2 separate regions of the Homo sapiens genome follow, and region 1 is linked to region 2. Evidence: fine-mapped expression QTL. Tissue or cell type: blood mononuclear cells. Region 2 holds a variant in brackets; the other region holds the start of a gene. All regions are shown on one strand. Distances are between the middles of the regions. Region 1 holds the start of SMU1 (SMU1 DNA replication regulator and spliceosomal factor). Region 2 overlaps SMU1 (SMU1 DNA replication regulator and spliceosomal factor).

Region 1 (2,916 bases), 22 kb before region 2:
AGTGCTGAGATTACAGGCGTGAGCCACCACGCCTGGCCAGATTTATTATTACTGTGCTGCAAATAATTTTTACAATTTATATACAACAGCAATAAAATATTTAAAAATAGGTTTTATGTATGAAGTTCACTGATATCTCTACATTTCATTTGTCACTACAAATGTAATAATGTGTTTGACCTAAAGTCCCGTGACAGGGCGTGGTGGCTCATGCCAGTAATCCCAGCACTTTGGGTGGCTGAGGTGGGAGGATTGCTTGAGCTGGAGGGGTCGAGGCTGCAGTGTGCCACGATCGAGACACTGCACTCCAGCATGGGCAACAAAGCGAGTCCTTGATTCAAAAAAACGCAAAACCAACCAACCAACCAAAATCCTCAATTAACTCTTCCTATAAATTTTGGCTAGTGTTATGTTGGTTTTGAATGTATTAATATCCCATCAGGTATTGCATATTCAGCCTCATCTTAAATCTAATCAACTAATTACATCAAACGAAAGCAACATTGGCTGGGCGCAGTGACTCACGCCTGTAATCCCAGCACTTTGGGAGACCGAGGCGGGCGGATCACGAGGTCAGGAGTTCGAGAACAGCCTGACCAACATAGTGAAATCCCATCTCTACTAAAAATACAAAAAATTAGCCTGGCGTGATGGCAAGAAACCTGTAATCCCAGCTACTCCGGAGGCTGAGGCAAGAGAATCTCCTGAACCCGGGAGGCAGAGTTTGCAGTGAGCCGAGATCGCGCCATTGTGCTCTTCAGCCCGGGCGACAGTGCGAGATTCCGTCTCAAAAAAAAAGCAATCTTTCCAAACCAGTGCTCTTTCTTTTCTTTCTTTTCTTTTCTTTCTTTTCTTCTTTCTTTTCTTTGCTTTTCTTACTACAATCTTATCACCACTACTTTTCTTTTCTTCTTTTGAGACGGAATTTTGCTCTCCTTGCCCAGGCTGGAGTGCAATGGTGTGATCTCGGCTCACCGCATCCACCTCCAGAGGTGAAACGATTCTCCTGCCACAGACTCCCGAGTAGCTGAGATTACAGGCGCCCCCGCCACCACGCCCGGCTAATTTTTTGTATTTTTAGTAGAGACGGGGCTTCACCATGTTGCCCAGGCTGGTCTCGAACTCGCGCGCTGGGAGTACAGGCGCGAGCCACCGCGCTCCGCCCCAGCGCTTTTCTTTTTCAGTACATTTGTGAGCTGTATGGCGCCCGGTGCTTTTTTTCTTTTTCTTTTCTATCTTTCTTTTTTTTTTTTTTTTTTTTTTGAGACGGAGTTGCGCTCTTGTTTTCCATGCTGGGGTGCAATGGCGCGATCTCGGCTCACCGCAACCTCCGCCTCCTGGGTTCAAGCGATTCTCCTGCCTCAGGCTCCCGAGTAGGGATTACAGGCATGCGCCACTACGCCCGGCTAATTTTGTATTTTTAGTAGAGACGGGGGTTTCTCCATGTTGGTCAGGCTGGTCTCGAACTCACGACCTCAGGTGATCGCCCGCCTCGGCCTTCCAAAGTGTTGGGATTACAAGCGTGAGCCACCGCACCCGGCTCCGGCCTGCTTTTAAACAGTCTTCCTCCTGATGCGTATTTCTCTGGGGCAGGGGCATAAACTCCGCCCTCTGACAGCCCCTGAGGGCTCCGCCCCTACGCGAACCTCGCCCCTACTCTTCGTTCACTCTATCTCCAGAGCGGGAGCCAGACGCCGACCCAAGCGGAAGTGACGTTAGGTGTCCGCCGGAGGTGTCGTTGGTGTGTTGCGCGACTGGCCTTGAGGGAGAGCTGGGGCCTGCTCCCGGAGAGATACGGCTATGTCGATCGAAATCGAATCTTCGGAGTGAGTCCTGCGGTGGGGATGTTCGCGCCTTGCCGGGGGCCTGGAGGTTAAGGGTGTGGGGCGGAGGGTACTCGGGAGAAGGCATCCGAGAGGCCAGGGAGTGGAGGGCCATTTCCTTGCCCCCAAAGAAGCATCTTGGATCTCGCTACCTCGGAGGTGGGCCCACAGGAAAGTAGCAGCTCTCAGACGTGAAGCCCAAAACCTCGAGGGAGGTGGCACGGGTGGGGAAAACACACCTTGCAGACCTAAGTTCTGTCCTTGGCCGACTGCTGGCGCGCTGTGATTGACCAAATTAAGGATCCACTCTGGACTCCAGTCTAATTATCTGCGCAAGGGGATAGGTCTCTTTAAGCCTTGCTTCTCTCCCTGTCCAGCTTATGCAATGTGATTCGTTGTCTCTGCTTATACGGCCCCTTTGCTTTTCTCTGCCTAGCGTTTATCACTCAGTATTGTCACTGTTTGATAACCTCACCCCAAACTAGCCTTTGTCGGTGCCTAGGAGCTCCTTTTCCTTGTGGTCTCAGTGTCTAGCATACCTTAGAGGAAGAGTTAATTGCTTTTGGAATGAATGAACAACTAGCTTTTGGAATGAATGAACAACTATCAGGCCCGATCTGGCACGGAATTTTGGGTTGTCTGGGGAGAGACAGACTGGAGACTGGGCTAGAAAGAAAAATTTTCAAGGAATAGGGGATGAGAATTAGTGACTAAAGAAGACCTTAGTGTGCTTTTCCAGAACTCCATCCTCCACCTGTCCTTGCCAACACTTAATAATAATTAAATTAACAGACATAAAAATTGTGTCTGAGTGTAAGGGAGGGAGAGGACCTTTTTTGGAGACTTTTCATAGGAGGAAGGGAGGTTTATGCATTCAGCAAATACTGAAATGATGTTAACCTACTTGTCCAAGGTCACATAACTTTGATTCAAATCCCAGACTATCTTCAAAGCTTCTAGCTCTTTATGTATTCATTTCTGTTTGAAGGTAGGGAATTTGATTTTGGCTATGTCAAATGTGAGCTGTTTGAGGAGAGAGATGACTTATTTTGGGAGTGTAAAATGGAAGTCAACGGACATGTGCTAAGGAAGA
Region 2 (2,916 bases):
GGAGAGGGAAGGTATGTGAGACCTTATGTCCCCAAAGTACAACTGACACTTGTTGTTGTGTCATTTGAGTTTTTACCCAGAAGAGACATTTGAAAGGGGGTAGCAGTGCTTCATGTTTCTCAGAGTATGGTCTTATGGACCTACCTGCATCATAATCACTTTAGAGGGTCTGTTATACTCTAAAGGACCCAGCTGAGACCCACTGATCTCAATCTCCTGCTAACTTGTTTTTTAGAGGTCTGTCCCTGAACAGAAGCTTGTGGTATTACTGGCATATTTTCTTCCAGCCTCTTTCTTTGCAAAGCTTTTGTTTGATTGTTTGATATAGTGAAAATTACACCGTATACACAATCACATAGCCCTCTTCACTTAATATTATAACATGAGCTTCTGTAATTTATCTAAAATGCATTCAATCGTTGGTCACAACCATAAGATATTAAATATTTATTGTTCTTTTCATTTACTTTCATTTGGTAGAATTCATGGTTTAAAATCTGGGAAAACCCTGAAGGAATTTCGTGGCCATTCCTCCTTTGTTAACGAAGCAACATTTACACAAGATGGACATTACATTATTAGTGCATCCTCTGATGGCACTGTAAAGGTTAAGTATTTGCTATCAGTTTATTTTGGGATGTCTACCCCATCTTTGTCCTTTGAGGAGTTTTCAGTGGTGATAATGGGAATGATTGTGCTGTAGTAAACCTCTTTCCTGGCTATTTTAGCTGTAATTGAGGTGAGTCTGAGACAACAACAGTATTCTGTGGGTAATTCCCATTGGCCTTGGGACCCCAATCTCAAACCTTTTCAATCCAAACAAACTTTATCATGTGTAGGAAAAGAGGAAGGGTGAAGAGTCCTAAACTTAAGCCATCCCCCATTCACAGATACACATGGTGGTTAAATCTGTTTTGCCATAGGTATGGTCCACCTGCTAACAGTCAAATTCACGAAAGTCTCAGTGGCCTAATAAATAGATCTCTTTTTTGTTGCACAGCCTCACTGCACTCCTGGTCCCCAGATTTAGGGCCTTCCTAGTAGCATTTATAGAGGAATAGGAGAGGTGTTGAGTAAAACTAAGCCTTCTCCTAGATAGTTATTTAATAAGTAATTTGCTGAAAGTAATGGATCTTCAGTACCTTTAAAGATTTAGTTATTTGAAGAGAGGTTCTCATTTCCTAGAAAAGATATGAGAAACCCAAATAGAAAATTATTAGAGATCTTTGAGACACTATTTACATTC[C/T]GGACCTAATCTTTTTGAATTGTCTTATATGAGTGAGTACTTTGTGGCAGAAGATCTAGACATTTTAATAAAACATTTTAATACAAATATCTAGATATTTTAGATACATATTTAAGTATCTAAAATTCAGACAGCCAGGGGTGGTGGCGTATACCTGTATTCCTAGCTACTTGGGAGGCTGAGGTGAAAGGATCACTCGAACCCAGGAGTTTGAGGCTGCATTGAGCAATTTTCTCACCACTGTACTTCAGCCTGGGCAACAGAGCAAGAACCTGTCTCAGTCAATCAATAAATGTATGTATATATATATATGTATATATGTCAGACCACCGTCTGAAATTGCTGTTCATGATTGGAAATCGAACTGGAAACCCGAAGGCAGGAGATGTATGCTCCCTTGGGATGTATGGGGAAATCACACAGAGCTGTTAGTACTTCAGTCATGGGATTTGCTCTCATGCTATGCATATGGGCCTCACAACTTGTAAATGCCACTGGAAGATGGCTTATCTAAGGTTCCTTATTTTGTGGTCTTTCCCCCTTAGTTCTGCAGTGAGTGGGGCAAAGCGTGTCACTGACCTTTTGAATGGAAAACACTGGAAGCCTTAGCGTTCTTAATTCCTGAAATGTTCATTTTTTCTTCTAAGCAACTGGGCTTCAGAGGAGATTAGGGCAGGCAATAACAGTGTTGACACCAGGGCAACTGTTTTCTCCTGTTTATGGGTATTTATTCAACATCTGCTTTCTGCTAAGCTCCATGGAAGGCACAGAGGAAACACAGCAGAGTCCATGCCTTAGAGACTTTGTACCTGATGAATTGAGTGGTATCAGGACAATGCTATTTAATGTTTGATCCATCCCTTCTCTAAGCACATCTCAGATTTCTGTGCTACCTGATTTAACCCTTTCAGTTCATAGAACCCAGAAGGATAAGGTGAAAAGATAGACCGGGAAAAGTAATGCAAGTGGCCAAGAGTAGCTTCCACTTCAAAGTTCCTCATGTGTGTGTGCTAACATTGTGACTTCTGTTCAGTCATTGTCAGTATAAACTGTACATTGGAATCATTTGTAGCTTTTTAAAAAATGCCTATGCCTCACCCTAGACCTACCACATCAAAATCTCAGGATAGAGTCTCAAGCTAAAAAGCCTCTATTTGAGCCAGGCTTATTGGCACCTGCCTGTAGTCCCGTACTCAGAAGGCTGAAGTGAGAGGATCGCTTGAACTCAGGAGTTTAACGCCAGCAGAGGCAATAGGGCAAAATAGCGAGATCTCATCTCTTTAAAAAAAAAAAAAAAGAAAAGAAAAGCGGTTTTTGTTTTGTTTGTTTGTATTTTATTTTAATTATTTTACATAGAGACAAGATCGCACTATATTGCCCAGGCTGGTCTTGAACTCCTGGCCTCAAGTGATCCACCCGCCTTGGCTTCCCAAAGTGCTGACATTACAGGCGTGAGCCACCATGGCCGACCCCCTGTTTGGTTTTGATATCCAGACAAGGGTAGCTTTCTGGTTGTTTATGACAGTAGCAGTGTTGACAAACAACTAATTTTAAAGAGAGAGAGCTCTATTGGCTAAGGAAAAATGTATGAGAAAAGATCATAGATTTTTAAAAGTTTTTAAGTTTTAGTTTGTGACTTTGGCTTTGCCAATAAATCAACAAATACATGA

What was found. PIP is the estimated chance that this variant, and not a neighbour inherited with it, causes the effect.
Region 1: it holds the start of SMU1, and the variant in region 2 is fine-mapped to the expression of SMU1 in blood mononuclear cells (TOPMed, PIP above 0.99).

What each region holds. Positions count from the first base shown.
Region 1 is chr9:33,075,493-33,078,408 of GRCh38, reverse strand. SMU1 (SMU1 DNA replication regulator and spliceosomal factor) reads left to right here and starts at 1,735. Exons shown (of 12, transcript NM_018225.3): 1 at 1,735-1,826. The coding sequence starts at 1,801. RefSeq lists enhancers at 1,354-1,553, 1,724-1,873.
Region 2 is chr9:33,053,804-33,056,719 of GRCh38, reverse strand. It overlaps SMU1 (SMU1 DNA replication regulator and spliceosomal factor), which reads left to right. Exons shown (of 12, transcript NM_018225.3): 9 at 481-607. Among named protein-coding and RNA genes, the nearest start is that of SMU1, 21 kb to the left of the region's middle. The variant C/T (reference allele first, on the strand shown) is at 1,247.